Linked DNA regions of Homo sapiens. The protein of the gene in region 2 purifies or fractionates together with the protein of the main gene of each other region. This does not show direct contact. Each region holds a gene or a part of one and is shown on either strand. Other genes may lie near its edges.

The links.
Region 1: the proteins of PRIMPOL (region 2) and TIPIN purify together in Homo sapiens (affinity purification with mass spectrometry; one large-scale study listed by BioGRID and IntAct). This does not show direct contact.
Region 3: the proteins of PRIMPOL (region 2) and TWNK purify together in Homo sapiens (affinity purification with mass spectrometry; 2 studies listed by BioGRID and IntAct, with this or other methods). This does not show direct contact.
Region 4: the proteins of PRIMPOL (region 2) and RSPRY1 purify together in Homo sapiens (affinity purification with mass spectrometry; one large-scale study listed by BioGRID and IntAct). This does not show direct contact.

Annotation. Positions count from the first base shown.
Region 1 is NC_000015.10:66,353,886-66,357,966, reverse strand, and holds the start of TIPIN (TIMELESS-interacting protein), read left to right. Parts: upstream 1-1,281; 5' UTR 1,282-1,328; exon of another isoform or gene 1,329-1,824; intron 1,825-3,845; exon of another isoform or gene 3,846-3,969; intron 3,970-4,081.
Region 2 is NC_000004.12:184,654,271-184,662,646, forward strand, and holds part of PRIMPOL (DNA-directed primase/polymerase protein), read left to right. Parts: intron 1-2,811; 5' UTR 2,812-2,870; coding exon 2,871-3,050; intron 3,051-5,069; coding exon 5,070-5,167; intron 5,168-7,503; coding exon 7,504-7,633; intron 7,634-8,376. UniProt on the Homo sapiens protein: DNA primase and DNA polymerase required to tolerate replication-stalling lesions by bypassing them.
Region 3 is NC_000010.11:100,989,625-100,995,872, forward strand, and holds the end of TWNK (twinkle mtDNA helicase), read left to right. Parts: intron 1-19; coding exon 20-260; intron 261-811; coding exon 812-919; exon of another isoform or gene 920-1,039; intron 1,040-1,244; coding exon 1,245-1,386; coding exon of another isoform or gene 1,387-1,401; exon of another isoform or gene 1,402-1,430; intron 1,431-3,565; coding exon 3,566-3,886; 3' UTR 3,887-4,779; downstream 4,780-6,248.
Region 4 is NC_000016.10:57,203,329-57,208,356, reverse strand, and holds part of RSPRY1 (RING finger and SPRY domain-containing protein 1 isoform 1 precursor), read right to left. Parts: intron 3,854-5,028; 5' UTR 3,699-3,853; coding exon 3,349-3,698; coding exon of another isoform or gene 3,345-3,348; exon of another isoform or gene 2,976-3,344; intron 765-2,975; coding exon of another isoform or gene 672-764; intron 300-671; coding exon 247-299; intron 1-246.

The DNA.
Region 1 (4,081 bases), on a different chromosome or scaffold from region 2:
TTTTTTTTTTTGAGACAGAGTCTTGCTCCGTCGCCCAGGCCGGAGTGCAATGGCATGATCTCAGCTCACTGCAACCTCTGCCTCCCAGGTTCAAGTGATACTCCTGCCTCAGCCTCCTAAGTAGCTGGAATTACAGGTGCGCGCCACCACGCCCGGCTAATTTTTGTATTTTTAGTAGAGATGGGGTTTCACCACGTTGGCTAGGCTGGTCTCGAATTCCTGACCTCGTGATCTGCCCGCCTCGGCCTCCCAAAGTGCTGGGATTACAGGCGTGAGCCACTGCACCCGGCCCCAAGTAACATATTTTTGACATTTTTTTTTGTTTACATTCACACTCTCTCGCTTTTTTTTTTTTTTTTTTTTTTTTTTTTGCGACAAGATCTCACTGTCACCCAGACTGGATCTCCAGCTGGATCGCCAGCAGTGCGATCCTAGTCACTGCCGCCTTCAACTTCTGGGCTCAAGCCATTCGCCTGCCTGGGCCTCCCAAAGTGCTGGGATTACAGGCGAGCCACACCGCACCTGGCCAGTGTCTATGTTCAGCCCTATTTTTCCTCTCTTTACCACCTCTTTTCTCAGCTTATTATTCAATAAACAATTCATAAAACTCTGAGTTCGAAGCATTCTGCTATGAACTCTGAAGAAGCGGTAATTTCTTATTCACTATTGCTTGCCTCTGTCCTTTTTCCTCCTCCCACAACTCAGTTTTCCAAAAACCGAGACCTATTTCCAAGGTTTAAAGTGCCGGGCACAGTGGCTCACGCCTGTAATCCCAGCACTTTGGGAAGCTGAGGTGGGAAGATCGCTTGAGCTAAGGAGTTCGACACCAGCCTGGGCAACTAATCCCCGTCTTTGCAAAACAAACAAACAAACAAACAAAAACCCATTAAAACAAAAATTCGGTGTGGTGGTGTTAGTCGGGGAAGGGAGGCTGAGGTGGGAGGATCGTTTCAGCCCGGGAGGTAGAGACTGTAGTCAGCCGAGATCGAATCACTGCTCTCCAGCCTGAGTGATAGAGCGAGACTTAGTCTCAAGAAAAAAAAAAAAGAAAAACCCCAGAATAACAAGTATTAACTTTATGCAAATAAGGAGGCTTAACTGAGTTCCTCTGAAGAATTCAGTAGGGCGGAAATTGTGGGACCGAAGGCGGGACCGGCGTGCTGGGCGGAACCTGAGAGGCGGGTTTTGCAGGCTCCGCCCAGCCCCCCGCACGGATTTGGCGCCAAACGCTGCGGGCCCTTCTCGCCCCAGGAGTTCCCGAGTATCGCGAGAAGCGCGCTTAGTCTGCACGCCGAGGTCCGCGCTGTGTCCCGTGTTTTCTGCGTGAGGTGAGAGCTGGCTGGCGGGCCAATGAAGTTCTTGCGGGGAGAGGGGAGTCGGACTAGCCAGGGAGCCAGATGGAAGAGCCAGGGAGCCAGACAGACTAGCGGGAAAGCCTAATTGTCGCAGGAAGGGGGTCAGGAGGTTGGGGGGTCGACCTGACCCGGCCTGGAGAGGCGGGGAGGTGGGCGCGTGTCCCGGTTGCTTAGGTTTTGGGATGCCTCTTACTCTGCCAAGCCGCTTAGCGGGAGGGAACGTGTTCCTGATCATCTTTACCCCAGGCTTCTGTCCGGGGCGTGTCAATGTAGAAATCCCCCAGCGAATGTTGGATGAATGAATGAAGTTGAAGAGAGGGTAGGCGGGGAACGAGGATGAGGGGGACGGCTGGAGAAGAGGTATGGGAGGTTCGATGTTTCAGGGATGGCACCCAAGGGGGACATCGAGGCAGCACGGTAGCACTTCCTTTGCGATGAGGGGCGTCTCTTTGGACTTCTTGGAAAAGAGGTGGGCATTGGAAACCAGGGTCTGGGAACAAACCGTGGTTTGGACATAACATTTGTTACCTTCACTCTTCTGGGAGTTGGAGAAGTAGAGGAGGAAGTTCAGACAATTTCATAAGTGTCTAAAAAGAGACAGTTATGCGACCATTGACGAGGAGTAAAAGTCGTCTATTGAGCATCTTATTCACTACAAATAGAAGAAAGAAATACCAGTTTCCTGACAAGCCCCACCCCATGCTTGGCCAGTTCCTGAGTACACTTAATATATTTTAGGTACTGTCATCAAACTCAAAGCTCGCTGTCAGCCTCAAAGGTCTGAACCCTAGTATAGATTCTTGTAGCTTGCTTGAAGTTACAGTGGGTCATGATCAGGAATTGATGCTTTGTTTTTGTTTTGAAACGGAGTCTCGCTCTTTCGCTCAGGCTGGAGTGCAGTGGCGCGGTCTCGGCTCACTGCAAGCTCCGCCTCCTGGGTTCAAATGATTCTCCTGCCTCAGCCTCCCGAGTAGCTGGGACTACAGGCGTGTGCCACCACGCCCCGCTAATTTTTTTTGTATTTTTAGTAGAGATGGGGTTTCACTGTGTTGGCCAGGCTGGTCTCGAACTCCTGACCTCATGATCCGTCCGCCTCTGCCTCCCATAGTGCTGGGATTACCGGCGTGAGCCACCGCGCCCAGCCGATGCTTTGCTTTTATATTTATGGTAACCGAAATTTAGAATTAGTGAGATTTTAAAGATCGTCTAACTCCAATTTGGGGAAACTGGAATTTTTTTTTGCATTCCATCATTCATCAAATATATATTGAGCACCTGGGGCCGGGCGCGATGGCTCACGCCTGTAATCCCAGCATTTTAGGAGGCCGAGGCGGGCGGATCACGAGGTCAGGAGATCGAGACCATCCTGGCTAACACGGTGAAACACCGTCTCTATGAAAAATACAAAAAATTAGCCGGGCGTGGTGGCAGGCGCCTGTAGTCCCAGCTATTCGGGAGGCTGAGGCAGGAGAATGGCGAGAACCCGGGAGGCGGAGCTTGCAGTGAGCAGAGATCGCGCCACTGCACTCCAGCCTGGGTGACAGAGCCCGAGACTCCTTCTCAAAAAAAAAAAAAAAAAAAAAAGATATATATTGAGCACTTGCTGTGTAACAGCATTGGGGTTCCAGCTGTGTAACACAGAGAGACTTAACCTCGTTGCCCTTTTTGAGCTACAGTCTAGTTTGGGAGACGAACAATAAATAACTGTATAAATAAAACCTGATATTGAAACTGGATAAGTGCCATGACACTTGTACTTGACACTATGAATGCTTACTAAAGAAGGATTTAGAGAAATTGAGGTAAACTTTTGAAAAGGTGATAGTTGAGATCTGGAAGATATTAGGAGTCAAGGAATAGCTTTTTCAAGACAGGAAATAGTATTTGTAAAGAGCCAGTGGCCTGAGGGATATAGCTCTTTCAAGGAAAGAAAAAGCATAGAGTAGTGTGAAGTGAGACTGGTGAGGTAGTAAGAGGCTGGATCACACAGGGCCTTGAAGTTTTGTCTTTATCTTAAGAGCAATCAGAAACCATTGAAATACTTAATCCAAGTGAGGTGATCAGCTTTATATTTTCAGATTCAGTCTAGATGTAATAGGGACAATTGAAGGAGACGAGTGGATGAGAGTAGTGGAGTAATGCAAGCAAGAAATGTTGGGAAGTGGTTATAGAGATAAGGAGAAATAGACAGATTCAAGGGATATTTAGGAAATAAGATGGGCAGGATCTGTGGGATAGGGGAAGGAATTGCTAAAGATGACTTGTAGGTTTCTGAATTGCATAGCTGGATAGATGTCATTTAATGAGTTAGGAAAATTTAGAAGTTTGGTTTTGTACCTGCTGAGTTACAGGTGCCTTTCAGGCGTTTAGGAAGTGTAAAATGGGAAGTAGTGATCTGGATCGCAGAGTCAAGGCCTAGGGTAGAGATAAAAATCAGGGAGTCATCTATAAATCAGTACTTATTAAAGCTCTGTGCATAAATGAATGAAGAAGCCCTAGGATGGAGTCTTGGATACTTAATGGCCGGGGTAGAAGATAAACCTGCAAAGAAAATCCAGGAGGAGTGCCCAGAAAGGGAGGAAAGCCTCAGCCTCCTGAGTAGCTGGGACTACAGGTGCGTGCCACAACACCTGGCTAAATTTTTTTTATATTTTTAGTAGAGACGGGGTTTCACTGTGTTGGCCAGGCTGGTCTCGAACTCCTGACCTCATGGTCCGTCTGCCTCT
Region 2 (8,376 bases):
TTCACTAATAATCAATGGACTTTGTTAAAAGTTAATAAACTTCATGATAGAAAGTCAGTTTCTCAATTAGGTTTATCTAAGTATAGCAGATTTTTAGCTGCACGTGAAGCAGATCAAAGTAACTGAATACTCAGAATCTAGCAATAAGGAGCCATATCACTTTGTATTGACAAGTTAAAGCAGTTTTTTTTTTTTTTTGAGACAGAGTCTCGCTCCGTTGCCCAGGCTAGAGTGCAGTGGCACGATCTTGGCTCACTGCAAGCTCTGCCTCCCGGGTTCACGCCATTCTCCTGCCTCAGCCTCCTGAGTAGCTGGGACTACAGGCACCCACCACCACGCCCAGCTAATTTGTTTTGTATTTTTAGTAGAGACAGGGTTTCACTGTGTTAGCCAGGATGGTCTCGATCTCCTGACCTTGTGATCCGCCTGCCTTGGCCTCCGAAAGTGCTGGGATTACAAGCGTGAGCCACCGCGCCCGGCTGAAGCAGTTTTTAAAAAAATTGCTTCATCTCCTCCATCCAGTGAATTGATATTTTCCCTAAGCATACCTGTTATGAAATTTATGTTAGTACCTTTAGAATTATATTTCTGTTTCCTAGTATATACTTTATATGTGGATTAGGTATAACTCTGAGAGAATATCTTTCTTAGGTCTGTTACGATTGATGTCAAATTTGAAATCTGCGGATAATATGCCTTTGTTTTTTTTCTAACAAGGTCATGATGTACTATCCCTTTTTTTTTTCTTTTCTTTTGAGATGGAGTAGTCCCAGCTACTCAGGAGGCTAGAGTGCAGTGTCATAATTTCAGCTCACTGCAATCTCTGCCTCCTGGGTTCAAGCAATTTTCCTGTCTCAGCCTCCCAAGTATTTGGGATTACAGGTGCCCGCCACCACGCCTGGCTAATTTTTGTATTTTTAGTAGAGACGGGGTTTCACCATATTGGTCAGGCTGGTCTCGAACTCCTGACCTCAGGTAATCCGCCCTCCTCTGCCTCCCAAAGTGCTGGGATTACAGGCATGAACCACGGCGCCTGGTCTACCCTCTCGTAATCTTTTTTTTTTTTTTTTTGAGATGGAGTCTTGCCCTGTCACCCAGGCTGGAGTGCAGTGGTGCGATCTCGGCTCACTGGCACCTCCACTCCTGGTTCAAACTATTCTCTTGCCTCAGCCTCCCGAGTAGTTGGGATTATAGGTGCCCACCACCATGCCCAGCTAATTTTTGTATTTTTAGTAGAGACGGGGTTTCACCATCTTGGTCAGGCTGGTCTCGAACTCATGACCTCATGATCCACCCGCCTCAGCGTCCCAAAGTGCTGGGAATACAGGCAGGAGCCACCGCGCCTGGCCCCCTTTCTTAATCTTTTAGGGAGATTCTGGTTTTCCTTCCAGGAAATACTCATTTGCCAATGAGTTTGTGTTGCTGCAAAGTTTTCTGCTAAAATTCAAGACAATGTTTATCAACTCAATAAGCACAAATGTGTTACCAAAGAAATAGGACTTCACTGTTAAATGATTTAGTACATATTATTTCACTTCAAAAAAGCCCCAATATATCTGTTTTCCACATAGGTAAATTATGGCAGAGATGATATTAATGAAGAGAGGAACTCTATTAATTACCTATTTCTATGTCAAAGCCAGCCCCAAACTTACTGGCTTAAAAAAGACAAAACAACCAAATTTATTTTTTTCTTATAGCTCTGTGGGTTGGCTGGGCAGTTTGATAGGTCTCTCTGGGACTCAGGCTTACTAATGCGTTGAATTCAGATGACGGCTGGATGTCCGGAATGGCCCAGCTCACATATCAGACTGCTTATGCTGGCTGTTGGCTGCAATTCCTTGGTTCTTTTCCATGTGGGCTTTCATCCTCTATGAGGCTAGAGTTATGGCATGGCAATCTCAGGGCAGGACTCTGGGATAACCAAGTCTGCTGCAAAGGCACTCGTTAAACCTCTGCTTGCTTCACTTTTGTCAATGTGATGTTGGCCCAAAACAAGTCATATGGCCAAGCTGAGAGTCAGTACGAGAGTGAGTTTAGGTGCCATCTCTTGATGGGAAAAATGGCAAGGGGTTTGTGGCTGATTTGGCTGTTTTTAATCTAGAGTGAAAGTTTTCCCACTCTTCTAAAAACCTATTCTTTTTCTTTTGTAAATGAATTATAATCCCAAATTGGAAAATTATTGCCTGGCCCCCTTACTCTGGCGTGGTTGACATGGAAGTATTATATAGAAAGAAAAATCATCCATTACTACAGACATCCAAAACTAGCCCAACTAAAAGTTGTGTTGAGAGAGAAGAGGAGACATGGACAGAAACAGAGGAAAAGGGAACTAAGAGCTGTACATTGGTATCTAGAAATGAATTCTACACTGAGAAATAATAGCACAAGAATGGGTGGACAAGGTCATAGCACGTGATACAATAAAATGGTTATAGTAAAAACCACAGTGATACAAAAAGCACATATATTTACATGAGGCTTTGTAATTTAGAGATTGCTTATGTCTTACCACATTTATCTTCAAGCTAAGTATATAAAGTACTCAAGATGATATTGATTCCCATTTTTCAGTTGATTAAACTAAGATTCAGGGCGCTTCATTAACCTGTCCAAGGTCATAATACCATTAGATGAAGAACCAGGATCTAAGAATTTCTGATAACCAGCCTTGCTCTCATTCTGTGGTAAAACTTCATGCAAAGAATAAACAAGAAAATAAGTGTCAGGAAGTGAGTTTTGAAACTTTATCAAACAAAATATATTCTAAACAAAGAAATTAATGGCCTTTTTGTTTGTTGTTTGTTTTAGTAGTAATTGATAGAAATATTACGTGGGATAGGATTTATTCTCTCCACACTTCTGAACCAATGAATAGAAAATGGGAAGCAAAACTGAAGCAAATTGAAGAACGAGCATCTCATTATGAGAGGAAACCGTTGTCCTCAGTGTATAGACCAAGATTGTCCAAGCCAGAAGAACCACCCTCCATCTGGAGACTATTTCATCGACAAGCTCAAGCTTTTAATTTTGTTAAAAGCTGTAAAGAAGTAATTTCCTCCTCCTCCTCTTCTTCTTCCTCCTCTTCCACTTCCTCTTCTTTCTTCTTCTTCTTCATTATAATTTCAGTTCTTTAAAAAAAAAAGTCTATTATTTGTCTTCATTTCAGGCCATGTATTCTACCAAGAAAATTTAATGGCAATCTTAATGGCATGTGATTTAGGAAAAATATTCCTGTGAATCATTAACCATTTAATTTATATTAGTAATGAAAAAGAATGACACATCTAGTACCAATTAGTTTTTAAAAATTGTGATGATATTTAAATGAAGCTTTATGCTTAGAGGGAGGGGAACCATATTTATTTCAACACAGTAAGCAAGTAGGAGAAAGAAGTGTCAGCCTTTCAAAGAACATGGTGCTGAAAAATAAAAATCACTGGCCGGGCGAGGTGGCTCATGCCTGTAATCCCAGCACTTTGGGAGGCCGAGACGGGTGGATCACCTGAGGTCCGGAGTTTGAGACCAGCCTCACCAACATGGAGAAACCCTGTCTCTACTATAAATACAAAATTAGCCGGGTGTGGTGGCGTATGCCTGTAATCCCAGCTACTCCCAAGGCTGAGGCAGGAGAATGGCTTGAACCCGGAAGGCGGAGTTTGCTGTGAGCCGAGATCGCGCCATTGCACTCCAGCCTGGGCAACAAGAGCGAAACTCCATCTCAAAAATAAATAAATAAATAAATAAATAAATAAATAAATAAATATCACTAAATCAAGCAACAGATGTGTATTGCACATTCTTTTTTTTTTTTGGGGCACTGTGGGGAATGTAAAGAAATATGAAAGAAACGATAAGATGCTTATATGATAGCATAAGTGTGCTGTGAGTCTGATCACTGTTGCTGTATAAAATCTCCAAGTGCTGGAAGTTTTAGAAGGACCTCTCTTTCTCTAGTAAGGGTAGGCTTACTCAAATCTCATGAGAATGGTTTAAGAAATACCTTTCTTAGGCATTTTGGGTAAACCTAATTCAAGCAGCAGAAATTAAAATACTGACAGATTCATTTGAACTTGAATTTTAAAAAGATATAGATAGGGGTATGCTTGTTGGACTTGCTAATCACCAGTCTATAAAATTTATTTCAAAAAGGTTTTTGTTAGGGTTAAGCAACTGAGTCCTGTGATTTTTCACTCATGAAAAGAAAAATATGCTCACCAGCTACCTTTAGCTAAGAGGAAACAAAAGAACTTGTGGATGTATTCCTCTATTAGAAGAACCCTTATGGCAGGAGGCATGAGCAGTTATATTTAAACAACTACCGCAGTAATTAACCTTTAAAAAAATGGTTCCGGCTGGGTGCGGTGGCTCATGCCTGTAATCCCAGCACTTTAGGAGGCTGAGGCAGGCAGATCACTTTGAGGTCAGGAGTTCGAGACCAGCCTGCCCAGCATGGTGAAACCTCGTCTCTACTAAAAATACAAAAAATTAATCGGGCGTGGTGGTGGGCACCTGTAATCCCAGCTACTTGGGAGGCTGAGGCAGGAGAATCGCTTAAACCTGGGAGACAGAGGTTGCAGTGAGTCGAGATCACGCCACTGCACTCCGGCCTGGGCAACAGAGCAAGACTCTGTTTCAAAAAAAAAAAAAAAAGGCTCCTACATACATTTTTTTATGTACTGGGGAATTTACTAATCAATTTTAGCCCAAATCATTTATAATAATAAGTAGTTTTGAAAAATAAGTTTAATTTCATAAACTAAGAAATAAAACTATCATAGGAAGTCATACAAGTAATATTTTTAAGAGTGGTTTCTCTCCTTTTTTCTCTTTGGTCTGCATATTCTAATTGTTTTCACCTTTTGTATGAATGATTAAAAAATAGGTATAATTAGATTTTGAATGGCATAAACCTAGTGACTATTTGTCTTGTTTTTAATAATACAAATGTTCAAATTACAGTTTCTGAAAACTTGAATGAAAAATTCTTTATGAACATTCAGTAGCTACAGTTGAGTTTAGGTTTGCATTTTGTGAATTTTTCTGAATTCTTTTTTGATTTTATGCAGGACGTTCATGTATTTGCTTTGGAATGCAAAGTAGGAGATGGACAACGTATTTACCTTGTGACAACCTATGCTGAATTTTGGTTTTACTATAAATCCAGGTAGGTAGCATGCAGCAGAACCACACATTAAGCTAGAGTTCCATTTCCTTTGCCTAGGAATTTTGGTGAAATTAGTTCAGGCTGAATTGGCTTCCACAGTTCGTGACCACACTATTAGTTGCTCTTAGAATTGAATTCTGGAGTTTTCTTGTCATAGCAATGCTTGAGTATCTCACCAGGTGCTGGGAGAAAATAATCATGCACATACACGAATATATGCGTGTACTCAAAGGGAGTTTTGAAATTTCTCTTTTGCAAACAGGTATTAAATTATACTATTAATCACAAAGGAATATTTATGTTACTTACCTAGTAATGAAATATCTGCTTTATCTTGACTTTATTATTACTATTTTAAATTATTTGTTATTAGCTTTAGTTTTAATTTTTTAATTTTTTTGAGATGGAGTTTTACTCTTGTTGCCCAGACTGGTCTGCAGTGCCATGGTCTCGGCTCACTGCAGCCTCTGCCTCCCGAGTGCAAGTCGTTGTTCTGCCTCAGGCTCCCGAGTTGCTGGGATTACAGGTGCCCACCACCATGCCTGGCTCATTTTTATGTTTTTAGTAGAGACGGGGTTTCACCATGTTGACCAGGCTGATCTTGAACTCCTGACCTCAGGTAATCCACCCACCTCGGCCTCCCAAAGTGTTGGGATTACAGGTGTGAGCCACTGTACCTGGCTTATTAGCTTTATTTTGACTGAGTGATCTATTCAAGTATTTCTTTTTTTTTTTCTTTCTTTTTTTTAATTTAAAAAATTTTTTTTGAGACAGTTTCACTCTTGTTGCCCAGGCTGGAGTACAGTGGCACAATCTCAGCTCACTGCAACCTCCCTGAGTTCAAGCAATTCTCCTGTCTCAGTCTCCCAAGTAGCTGGGATTACAGGTGCCTGCCACCACGCCTGGCTAATTTTTGTATTTTTAGTAGAGACGGGATTTCATTATATTGGTCAGGCTGCTCTCGAGCTCCTGACCTCAGATGATCTGCCTGCCTCGGCCTCCCAAAGTGCTGGGATTACCAGCATGAGCCACCGCACCCAGCCGTATTCAAGTATTTCTCAGACTTGAGTAATGTGTGGAAAAGGAGAGTAAATTGTTAGCATGCCCTATATTGATTTAGAATACTTTTATTCAAATGTTGCTAAGTAGCTTCAAATATGAAACTGGATTTATTTATGTTGATATACATGCAACACCAGTTAGAGTTGAATGAAAATCATTAAGACAATGTGACAGATGTTTTGCTGAAACTCAGTCTCATCTTCCCATGTAAATATGGAACTGACTGCTACAGGGTGTGTATGTATGTATGTGTATGTGTGTGTTGAGTTCCTCCACTACCTGTACCACCTGATGATACAATTTTCACATAACTTTTCCCTCTTCAAATTACTAGAAGTCCTTAATTTGTATAGGATGCCATCTGAATATCACTTAGCCCAAATTATCATTTGCAAATTAAGTCAGCATCTCTCCCTATTTAACCCATGTCAAAGTCATTCCTCTTAATGCCAGAAAGAATGTAACTGCAAACATGAGCGTTGGGAGCTTATCAAAGTCAGGTGATTCAGAATTTTTTAAGCAATTTTTAAAATATTATCTTCCAATGAAAATACAGAATTTAAAAATTCTCATGGAAAATTCATGGAATCCCAAGAATATGGAATCCTGAAAAGAACATTTTTTTTCAAAGAAAATTTGTTTCATGGTGACACTAAAAACAAATATAGAGGTATTACACAATATCAAACTCATCTGTGAATAAATAACACTGTAAGATTGACTGTATTTTCTAGTTAAATAATGTTACAGGATATAATTGTTGCATTTTGCTTGATGGAAACCCTTGATAAGATGAGCCATAAACCTATGGTGAACAGTTCATTTTATCATGTTCTTATTTCATACTTGTATGTAGTGAAAGCACAGTTAACACAGTACTTGCAATGTAAGATAGACTGCCATGATTTAAAAGGTATAAGATAGAGGCTGGGCGTGGTGGCTCATGTCTGTAATCCCAGCACTTTGGGAGGCTGAGGCAGGTGGATCACTTGAAGCCAGGAGTTCAAGATCAGCCTGGCCAACATGGCGTAAACCCTGTCTACTAAAAATGCAAAAATTAACCAGGCGTGGTGGCGTGTGCCTGTAGTCCCAGCTACTCGGGAGGCTGAGGCAGGAGAATCGCTTGAACCCAGGAGGAGGAGGTTGCAGTGAACCGAGATCACACCACTGCAGTCCAGCCTGGGCAACAGAGCTGACTCAGTCTCAGTCAGTCAATCAATCAATCAATAAAGGTATAATATATCAATTTAACAATCTTGAATTATTCAATTTAGAAAAAATCTCTTACACTGCTATGAAGTTATTCCTGAAAATGCTGTGTGCAAGCTTTATTTTGATTTGGAATTTAACAAACCTGCCAACCCAGGAGCTGATGGGAAAAAGATGGTTGCATTACTCATTGAGGTAAATGGCCAACTCAAGTTTTTCTTATTTCTATCCATCTCTTCATTGGCTTATTCATTCAGTGAATTCAGCCTACATAATAGTAGGTTCTGTATCTCTTCTTTTTCTTGCTACTCTTCCTTTTGACTTTAGGATTTTTTAATATTACTTGTATGAGTAAACTGTGAAAAGGAAGGAAAGTTCAATTTGTGTTCATATAGTTTGCAATTTTGCTGTCTGGTAAAAAAAATGCTTTGAAAAAGATGTCAGTTTGAAAATTTTCTATATTTTAAAATTATATATTAATTCTCTGACTTCCATTACGAATAGCTGACTTTGGTAAAACCAGGCAAAATAATTTTTACTGTAAAAATTGGGTACTGAGATGAACCTCAAGAACACTGACTACAAATAGTATTAGAATTTTCAAGCTTGCAGGAATTTTGGAAATCATCTTATCTTGTCCCTTTCAAAATGAGGAAATTAAGGCCCAGACGAAACTAATTCCTATTCAAGGTCCTACAGCTAGTAATGGTAAAATCTTGTCTAAAAATATAGTTACTATTTTTAACTAAGAGAAAAAATACTGTAGTTCTTTATTTTTGATTTAGCTGTGTCAACCAGGAAGTTACTAATAAAAGGAATAGCATGGACTTGTGCAGCTAAGTTCTATTAGGATTATTTCAAAAAAAATTTTCAGATTGTATCACAGGAAGTTGTGTTAAAATTGTATTGACTATTATTCAGCCTAAGTGTAGGTACTG
Region 3 (6,248 bases), on a different chromosome or scaffold from region 2:
CTGTTCCACCCCACTGCAGGGCCAACAGGCAGTGGAAAGACGACATTCATCAGTGAGTATGCCCTGGATTTGTGTTCCCAGGGGGTGAACACACTGTGGGGTAGCTTCGAGATCAGCAATGTGAGACTAGCCCGGGTCATGCTGACACAGTTTGCCGAGGGGCGGCTGGAAGATCAACTGGACAAATATGATCACTGGGCTGACCGCTTTGAGGACCTGCCCCTCTATTTCATGACTTTCCATGGACAGCAAAGCATCAGGTGAGACTCCCAGATTCCAGCCACCTTGCTTTCCCAGACATATCCCAGCACTCAGGAACCTTTGGTTCCTTTTCCAGCTCCAGTAGGAACTCCCCCATCTCCTTAGGTTTGGAGTTTTTCAAAGAATGAGAGGGCAGGGCTGGACACACTGGCTCACGCCTGTAATCCCAGCACTTTGGGAGGCTGAGGTGGGAGGATCACTTGAGCCCAGGGATTTGAGACCAACCTGGGCAATATAGGGAGACCACCCCTCTCTATAAAAAAATTTTTAAAAATTAGGCTGGGCATGGTGATGGCATATGCCTGTGGTCCCAGCTACTCAAGAAGCTAAAGTAAGAGGATCGCTTGAGCCTAGTAGGTTGGGGCTGCAGTGAGCTGTGATCACACCACTGCACTCCAGCCTGGGCTACAGAGCAAGACCTTGTCTCAAATAATAGTAATAATAATAGAAGGGCAGAGGAGGCAGCCAAGAGAGTTTTCAGGATGCTAGTTCTTCTGCCTGGGGTGGTCTAGAGACAACTTGTCAAATTCCTTGCCTTTCCTCTTCCCAGGACTGTAATAGATACAATGCAACATGCAGTCTACGTCTATGACATTTGTCATGTGATCATCGACAACCTGCAGTTCATGATGGGTCACGAGCAGCTGTCCACAGACAGGTGACGGTGACATCCTCTCTTGTCTAGCTTGAGCCCGCTTGGACATACAACACACACTTCTCAGGCAGCTGGCCTCTAGGCACACATGCTGTGCTCTCCTATTTTCTGAGATGTGTGCAGGCACGTACCACCCCCATGTGTATCATATGGAGGTGTGGGGTATGGCAGCAGGATGTATGGACAGGGATCTGAGTGTGAGTCCTTGGGTAGAGGGAGGTAGAGTGGGTTGTGGTAGTTTGTGGGGAGATGTGAATGGATCAAGAGTATGTGTATGTTCTTGTCCTTCTGTGTCTGATAAGCTCTTTGTGTTGTTGGGATGGCGTAGGATCGCAGCTCAAGACTACATCATCGGGGTCTTTCGGAAGTTTGCAACAGACAATAACTGCCATGTGACACTGGTCATTCACCCCCGGAAAGAGGATGATGACAAGGAACTGCAGACAGCGTCCATTTTTGGCTCAGCCAAAGTGAGTGGCCTTTAGCGGAGCTCAAGCTTTGGAAAATAGAGTGGGTAGGTGTGACCAGGGACAGCCCTCATTCAGCCTTAATCGTCTTGACTGTCCATCCGAACAGGCAGGAGGCAATGCCTCTGGGGCCATGACATGAGGAATATATGTGCTGGAAATACAAAGGCTGATAGTTGGTTCTTATGCTCTTCTTGTCCCCCAGGAGCTCACATCCTCTCCTGGGGAAACAGTAAGACAGTGATTGCAATTCAGTATGATAAGAGTATGATAGGCAGCACAAGTATTTGGAGAGCAAAGAGAAAAGATGTCTGAGTCAGCCCGGGACATCTGGGAGACTTCCAGAGGAGGTGACAACAAAGGTTGGGTTGAGGTTTGGTAGACAATGGGTATTAGACAATCAGATAAATGTGAGGGCCTTCTGGGCATCAGGACCAGCCCAATCCTGGAGCTTCTAGTGTTACACTGAATGCCTATTACATACGAGGCCTGGGCTGGGCCTAGGGAATTCAGAGCAAGGAGCACAAATCATGTGCCATGATGGAACAAACATGGAGCTGGGAAAGAGAGTAATGCAGAAGTGGAAAAATGGCAGGGTACAGTGGATCACACCTGTAATCTCAACACTTTGGGAGGCTGAGGCAGGAGGATTGCTGGGGCCCAGGAGTTTGGCAATCTGAGCAATGTAGTGAGACCCTGTCTCTACAAAAATATTTGAAAATTGGCCAGGCGTGGTGGCTCACGCTTATAATCCCAGCACTTTGGGAGGCCAAGGCGGGTGGATCACGAGGTCAGGAGATCGAGACTATCTTGCTAACATGGTGAAACCCTGTCTCTACTAAAAATACAAAAAAAAAAAAAAATTAGCCGGGCGTGGTGGCAGGCACCTGTAGTCCCAGCTACTTGGGAGGCTGAGGCAGAATGGCGTGAACCCGGGAGGCGGAGCTTGCAGTGAGCGGAGATCGCGCCACTGCACTCCATCCTGGGTGACAGAGTGAGACTCCGTCTCAAAAAATATATATATATAATATATATATATTTAAAAATTAGCTGGGCATGGTAGCATGCACCTTTGGTCCCAGCTACTCAGGAGGCTGAGGTGGGAGGATTGCTTGAGCCTGGGAGGTTGAGACTGCAGTGAGCCGTGCTCACACCACTGCACTCCACTCCAACCTGGGCAGCAGAGTGAGACCCTATCTTTTTTTTTTTTTTTTTTTTTTTTTTGAGACGGAGTCTCGCTTTGTCACCCAGGCTGGAGTGCAGTGGCGCGATCTCGGCTCACTGCAAGCTCCACCTCCCAGGTTCAAGTGATTCTCCTGCCTCAGCCTCCCAAGTAGCTGGGACTACAGGCATGTGCCACCACACCCGCCTAATTTTTTGTATTTTTTTAGTAGATACGGAGTTTCACCGTGTTAGCCAGGATGGTCTCAATCTCCTGACCTCATGATCCGTCCGCCTCGGCCTCCCAAAGTGCTGGGATTACAGGCGTGAGCCACCGTGCCCAGCTGAGACCCTGTCTTTAAAAAAAAAAAAAAAAAAAAAAAAAGAATGGTCTCCTTCATGAGATGTGACATTTAGACTGAGACCTAAAAGAGAAGAAGCTGAGGTTGAGTGGGGTGGCCCGCTGTGGAGAAGGAGAGGGAACAGCACAGGCAGCGTCTGAAACAGTAGCAAGCTTGTCAGGGAACTGAAAGATTTGAGTGGCCCCAGCATCGTGGTCAGTAGTTCAAAGAGCTTTGGTCATGGGGGGAAGTACTTTTCCCTCTCCCATTCTTTCTCTTTTTTTTTTTCTTTTTTGAGACGGAGTCTCGCTCTGTTGCCCAGGCTGGAGTGCAGTGGCACAATCTTGGCTCACTGCAACCTCCGCCTCCCGGATTCAAGCGATTCTCCTGCCTCAGCCTCCCAAGAAGCTGGGACTATAGGTGCATGCCACCATGCCCAGCTAATTTTTTGTATTTTTAGTAGAGATGGGGTTTCACCGTGTTAGCCAGGATGGTCTTGATTTCCTGACATCGTGATCCACTCGACTCGGCCTCCCAAAGTTCTGGGATTACAGGCGTGAGCCATTGTACCCAGCCCCTCTCCCCATTCTTATCACTCCTCCCTGCCCTGTCAGCCCCCCTTTCTGCTTTGCTCATGTCCTCTTACTCCTGCTTTCCTCCTTCTGCCCCCTGTTCCCCAGGCAAGCCAGGAAGCAGACAATGTTCTGATCCTGCAGGACAGGAAGCTGGTAACCGGGCCAGGGAAACGGTATCTGCAGGTGTCCAAGAACCGCTTTGATGGAGATGTAGGTGTCTTCCCGCTTGAGTTCAACAAGAACTCCCTCACCTTCTCCATTCCACCAAAGAACAAGGCCCGGCTCAAGAAGATCAAGGATGACACTGGACCAGTGGCCAAAAAGCCCTCTTCTGGCAAAAAGGGGGCTACGACACAGAACTCTGAGATTTGCTCAGGCCAGGCCCCCACTCCCGACCAGCCAGACACCTCCAAGCGTTCAAAGTGAAGGCCGTGCAGAGCTGGTCACTGAAATGAGCCTGATAGGATAGGCTGGAGCATAAAACTCTGCAAGGGCTCCTCTATCCTGTGGTCCTGAGCTGTGTGCCCTTCTCAGTCTGAGGGGCCTAACCTAGAGCAGGTTTCCATAGTGAGAAAATTCAATGTAGCAGACTACTGAGAAACTACTGTGTTGCTCAGGCTTTGTTTGAGGTCCTGTATATACAGCACTGAAAAGAGAGATAAAGTCCCTGCCTGCATGCATTCTGGCGGAAGAGACAAGCAAGCAATGAACAAATTAGCAGAAAACCTAGTTTTAGTGAAAAATGCTGTAAAGAAAATAGAAATGCGATAGAGTGCTGGCAGGCTAGTGTAGATAAGTGGTCTGAAAAGGTGTCTCTGAGCCGAGGGCATGTGAGCTGGGGCCTAAACAACTAGAAGGAGAGAGCCACGTGAACATCCGGCGAAGGGGACCCAGGCAGAGAGAAAAGGAAATCCAAGCCCTGAGGTAGGAATGAGCAGGTCAGATTCAAGGCAGTGAGGTCAGGCCGCATGAACCTGGAGGGGAATCGGGGACTTCATGCGAAACTCCAGCCTAGGCTTTCAAAGTCAAAGGGTGATACAGTGGGTACCAAGCTCCTCTGCTCCCCACTTTGTAGAGCCTAGCATGAGGTGGCATGTACTAGAATTGGATCCTAGGTGCTTAGCCCTGCAATATCAGGGCCTCACTGGTGGGAGCTGCCTCGGGCTGGGTTGCTTGGTCATAGAGCCATAGAAGGAAGCTGTCAGCCCGGAGTGCCTGCCACCTAGACACTGATGCCATTGTGTGCTGCCTCAAGACTGCTGGAGTCAGGACATTTTATAGAGCCTTTTCCAGTTTTACTAAAAAATTTTTCCATTGCCTTTGTTTCTGTGCTTTTTCTTATTCATCCACCAGGTGTCTCCCCAGTCCGTAGCTGAATTTCCCTTTCGGGATTGGGAATGGACGGGTCCCCTCCCACTGCTTGCAGCCTTTGAGCGGTGGGCTTCCAAGGAAGCAGGGACATTAAAGGGCCTTCACACCCCACCTTCCATTTACATCTCTTCTTGGCCTAGGGAAGACAAGATGATCTGTCCTCATACCTAACTTCCCTGAGGATCTCGAGTGATTCCTGGCACAGGTACTCATCACTGGGCCACATGAGCCCAGTGCCCTGCCTGACTGGCCATTCCTCTGTGATGTGAGCCACTCACCTCTCAAGTGGACTTAGACTCAACATATTCTGTCCACCCCCATCCATCTCCCTCCTGTACCCTCTCCGTGTTTCTCATATGCTAATGCGTGCCAGAACTCCTGGGGACTTGTGAAAAATGCAGAAACTAGGCCCCATTCTCCCCCCATCCTCCACCACGTACATTTCTCATTCTGGATTTGAGGACGGGTACAGTAATCCTCATTTTTAACAAGCCGTGGAGGAGACTGTAAAATAGGTGACCCAGAGGGACTGTCAGAAGTATTCCTAAATGATGACACCTTCTCATCTCTCGTCCTCTGATATCCCAAAGTCCCAGTTTCCCTTTGGATTTGCCTGAAAGAGTCGTGAGAATGCAATATGTTCTGAGGGGGCTGGGGAGAATCCTTTTGTAAGGGTTGGGGGAAGGTTTCCTGCTCCGTTTGGAAGCAGGGCTGCCTTGTCAGGCTCTTCCTTTCAACCTATGAAGGGGCTTCTGGGGCCGATGGAGGGGTCTGTGGTCTCTGGAGTGTGAGAACTCTGGTCACAAATGTCTCCTGAAACATCCGGAGCAAGGCTGCTGGAAAGCTGCTCTCTGTGAGGAAGAACCTGGGGGGGTGGGGAGAGCTCCTCCAGGGCCTCCCTTCTTGGGGGTCTCTCCCAGACTGGCTGGAGCCAGGCCTCCCTAATCCCGCAGTAATCATTCCCAGCCGTTGGCTGGTCTAGGCCTCATCCAGAGTCTGTAACGCTGAACGGCAGCCATGCCTTCCAGAGGCACAATACCATATCAGTCATACCTGTAAGGATGTGGGTTCCACATTCCTGTCTCCCTAGAATGCCTGGTGGGTTCTCAGGAGATCTTTTAGGGGTTTCCAGTAGGGGACCTTTGTGAGGTCTCTGTGAACTGGGGATAGAGGGATAGATACAGACTTGGCTGTTTGTCTTGCCCCACCCTTCTAGCAGACACCCCCACACAGCACAAACCAGAATGATGAGGGGGAGGGGAAGCTAATACTCCCCCCAGCCCTACCCGCTGCACAAACACGTTCTATTCCATACCTGCCTTAAATACCCCATATCATGATTCCACCCAGTCTGTTCAGATCCCTGGATTCTAGAAAGCAGTGGGGGGTCCCTAGGGCCTGTGCGGATTCCCTGGGA
Region 4 (5,028 bases), on a different chromosome or scaffold from region 2:
AGAACAGTATGGTGAAAGATCCATCAATGCCAAAAAAAAAAAAAAAAAAAAAAAGGTATAATATGCATTGCCTATTATACCTATTCAGGGAAATTTCCATACAGTAAGGGCTTTTTTCATTGTTATGTATGCTGTATTTTTGGAGTCTTTTATCTCAAAACAAAACAAAACAAAAAACAAAAGGTGGCTACTTTTCTTCATTATTATATATTCATTATAAAGTAATGAAAACAAAACTAAAAATACCTGTTTCTGCCATTTCGTGTAATGTTATCATTGAATAGGGAGGTTCCTGATCACTGGAAAAAAAAATTCAAGGCATTAAACCTGAGGAAATAATAAATGACAATTCCAAATAAGAATTCAAACTGGAGGTGTGGAGGTAAAAAGGGACAGAAGAAATGAACACAAATGTAAGGAAAGAGATAGAAGAGACAACCTGAGCTATGACCTGTAAGGATGAATGTATACCATATGTGCTCATTTCCAGTCACTGTCCACAATGACCCACAGACAAAATGGGCAGGTGGATACAGACAAAGACTACTATGTGTCCTGGGGTAAAAGCACAGGAGTAAAACTGGAGATCACAGCCTACTCTCAGCTTTACACTCAGAGGCCCAGTGCCAACTGAGACAAGCCAGGAAGGTCAACATCACCTTCATACTTACCTCAGAGAAATGCCAGGAAGAGAGACGACAATCCCGGTTGAGGACTTATGGAAGCAAGGGCCTATATACGCATCTTCATTTTGAAGTTTTCTTCTGGAAATACCACTACATGCTTAGACTTCATAAAATGGTATTACAAGAAACAAAACCAAACTTAAGGAACTACTTAACATTCTAGACATTGCTCCAAAGTGGCATTATACACCTTAATTCAGTGGTGTGATCCCAGAAATCTTTAAAAAGTCCTTCAGGGGAACTTCAATAATGAGATGTTTTCCATTAAACAATTCTAACTGCTTAAGAACTCACCACTTATTTGTTTACATATTGTGGGTCTCTGTTTTAGTGTGGAAAAAAAAAAAGCCCCAAAAACTATCATCTTAAGTCATTTAATCCAGAGAATAACCTTGTGATATGGGAATTAGTATGGTCATTTCAGGTACTCATTAGGTGCTGCCTGTTTAAACAATATAATTGACTGATGCAAGTATTTCTGAAGAATGATCTGGCAATAATAAAATTAAGTATGCATATACCCAACAGTTGTAGATAAATTTTTACACAGGTCCAAAAATCAATGCATATTTGCGCTGTTCACTGCAGTGCTGTTTGTAAGAACAAAAATTTGGCAGTAACCTAAGTGACCATCACCAGATGAAAATGTAACAAAATATAATACTTTCAGGCATACAAGGGAATACTCTGTAATAGTCAGAAGCAGTTGTAGATTTATATACAGTAACACAGATTTCGATGTTGAGAAAAGTTAAAAACAAAGAGGTTTGTATAACTATGTCACTCTCTTTTAAAATATTGCAAGGGGCCAAGCGTGGGGGCTCACATCTGCAATCCCAGCACTTAAGGAGGCTGAAGCTCGACAATCGCTTGAGTCCAGGTATTTGAGACCAGCCTGGGCAACATGGCAAGACCTGGCTCTACAAAAACTTTTTTAAAAATTAGCCAGGTGCAGTAGCACACGCCTGTAGTCCAAGCTACTTAGGAGGCTGAGGTGGGAGGATGGTTTGAGTCCAGGAGGCTGAGGCTGCAGTGAGTCATGATCACGCCACTGTACGCCAGCCTGGGTGACAAAGTGAGACCCTGTCTCTTTAAAAACAAAACAAAACAAAAAAACTCTCTCTCTCAAAGTCTATTCTGCACCCATTTTTCCAATGAGCTTAAATTAACATTGTTTGTGGTTTACTTCCTTATTTGGGAAGGATAACTTTTATTACAATTTGGTACAAGGGATTTAAAAAATTTTTTTTGATTAATTAATTTTTGAGACAGGGTCTTGCTCTATTGCCCAGGCTGGAGTGCAGTGGTGTGATCATAGCTCACTGCAGCTGGAAACTCCTGGACTCTAGCAGTACTCCGGTCTTAGAATCCTGAGTAGCTGGGATCACAGGCAAGTGCCACTGTACCTGGATAATTTTTAAATTTTTTTTGCAGAGATGGGATCTCCCTATGTTGCCTAGGCTGGTCTTGAACTCCTGGCCTCCAGCTATCTTTCTACCTCAGCCTCTCAAAAGTGTTGGAATTACAGGTATGAGCCATTGTGTCTGGCCAAAAAATTATTCTTCTCGAAGACTAACAAATGCTCCAGTATTTTATGGAAAAGTTTAATACAGCTCTAAAAATTCGTTTGTATTCACAGGTACACTCTGTTTTATGCTTAATTTTTGAGGAACTAAACGAAACTGGGTTTCTATAAATGCGATTATCAAATGTTTATATACTTAAATTTACTAGCAGGGCCTGAAGCAAAAAGAACACATAAGTAACTTTTTAAAAAATACTACCATCTACTGAGCAACTGTTAAGTACAAAGCTCCACACTGAATGCCTTATGTACATTATCTCATGATAATCCTTGTGGGAACAATATTATCCCCCCATTTACAGATGAGGAATCTGAGGCTTCAAGAAGTAACTTACCCAATGTCATGCAGTTAGTAAGGCACTGGGCCAGAACTTGAGCTAGGCCCATCATGGTTCTAAGCTTTGTGCTCTTAACTACTGAAATATACAACCTTAAGTTAAATGTTTTTTTCTACTTGGATGCCCTTTAATTTCACTGTTATTCAATCTATGATTTTGTATTTAGAGGTAGACAAAGCAGAGGAAAAGACAAAACAGGTACAGGTGTGCCTTGCAGTATCAACTGACAAGCTTCCTAAATGGATTAAAGATAGTCAAATAAGGGATAAAGGATCAAATAAAGGATAATGAAAACTCTCCTTGACCTTAGTCCTTATGTTGCCAAGAGAAGTTGCCTGTAGCCATGTTCTTGGTAAAACAACTTACCTTGAATCTGAGGTCAGTGGAATAGACAGGCATGTACCATTAACAGTGAGCCTTCATGAAACCATTTCCTATTGTAGCTAGCAACATAAACTCACTCCATATTTACTCTATTCTCTAATAAAGATCATAGCTTTATCGTGTTTTCTGCTACAGAAACATTTAGACATTTCCAGACAAAGTAGATGACAGCAAGCAAAAACATCAAATCTTATCATTTACTCTGCCATCAGCGGAGCATTAAAATATTCTCCTTTGCCCTGTGAGCACAAGGCTTGGCGAGTATGTCCTAAAGGAACTGAAGGAGTCCTAAAGTCATGGTTCCGGGCAGAACACTTTTCATTCCACTGGAGGTGACCGTGAGTCAGATACTTACTTATCTACAAGAGTCCGTATTACTGCCAGTGTGTCCAACACTAGCCCATCCACATTTTGTTTCTTTCTCCTTGGCTCATGAGGTCCTCGGCCCCTCCTTGGTGGCCGAACAGGGTCCCGTGGTTGGCTCCTTGTGTCAGCAGTGGGTACTGCACTGTTCTCGGCCTGTTGCTGTTGGGTGTCAACACTGTCATCTGTTCCACTGTCATCTCGGCAGATACAGGAATTACCCATGGTAGTAGCGGCACCTCCAGTCCCTAGGAAGTGGGCTATGTGCTCTTCGAGAGTCAACAACAGACCCTGGCCAAGGCTTCTGCTCGCTAAGAACACGGCCCAACCAAAGACGATCATTTAGGTAGTTTTCAGTTTTCCAAGTACTGTTTTCATAACCTGGAGTTGAGGAATTTGCATCCTATTTGTTTTTAACAACTGAATGCCAAAGAAAGTTGCAGAGCTTATTCCCAACATTATCAACTACAGGGGATTCTGGACATCCAATGGCAGTTCTAAAAGAAAATGAGAAAAAGGAAAATGAATAAAAGATTCTTGACCACTTAATTACTCAAATTTTCCTAGTCTGATTTTATAGATATTAGGATTCTAATGAAGAATTATCTTTGGTTATTTTTATAGGTTTCCAATACAAAGAGATAGCTTTGGATAACAGAATTCGCAATCAATCAATAATTTCTTTTTATCATTCTGTTACAAAGTTGATTGCCAAACCATATTCTTATAGACCAGAGGAGTTATCATTGATTTTTTTAAAACCACATGTATAGTTTTTCCTGTCTATATAGAAATACATTAGAAGGATGTGTGCATTTTTTTTCAAGGGCTCCTTTTATCATAAAAAAAGAGTTGTCTTTCTGTGTAAGAGGTAGGTGTTAAAAAGAGAAAAATCTTTAAAAAAATGAATTAACTCCTTTCTTTAAACCCATAGGATAATTTAACAAGTTTTAAATAAAATAATTACAGACGTTTGTTGTTAAAAAAAAGTTATGATACAAATATGATAGCACCATTTGATATCAAGGAGAATAAAAGGATAGAGTTTCCCATTGGAAGCTCACTCAAGAACTGACAGAATTCATACAAGTTGTTGCAAAGTGTTTCTGTTATGTAAGCAAGGCTTTGTTTTGGGAAAGGAAAACTGATATCACAAAAGTTGTATTTTCACAATGATCAGTTTGTTGCACATGTCTATTACAAAGTTCAGAATAAGATGCACCAATTTATCTTTGCCTGAAAATACTGACTAAGGACCTTGTGCCAGGTACCACGCTGGACTAGGAGAATAAAGATGAGTAAGGAATAGTTCCTGCCCTCCAGGAATTCATGGATGGCCATTCTCATCCCACAAAGTATGTTTATCATTAAAAACCTAATGAAAGAACCAGCTCTTCAAGAAGCTGGTAAAATCTGGTTAGATTCTGGAAGGAAGTAAAGATTTAGAAATAGGAGACTTACATGGGCTGGTAGCAAAAAGTAAAAAAACAAACAAACAAACAAAACAGGCTGACAGCTGGAGAACAGGCCACATAAGGAATAGACTATGCTAGTGTGTAGTCTCTACACAACATCTGGCTAGTTACAATTAATTCCTCATACCTTGAGCACTGACCAGGAATAATATAAACAAAATTTATAATTCAGTGGAATTAGAAGAGAAATATTACTC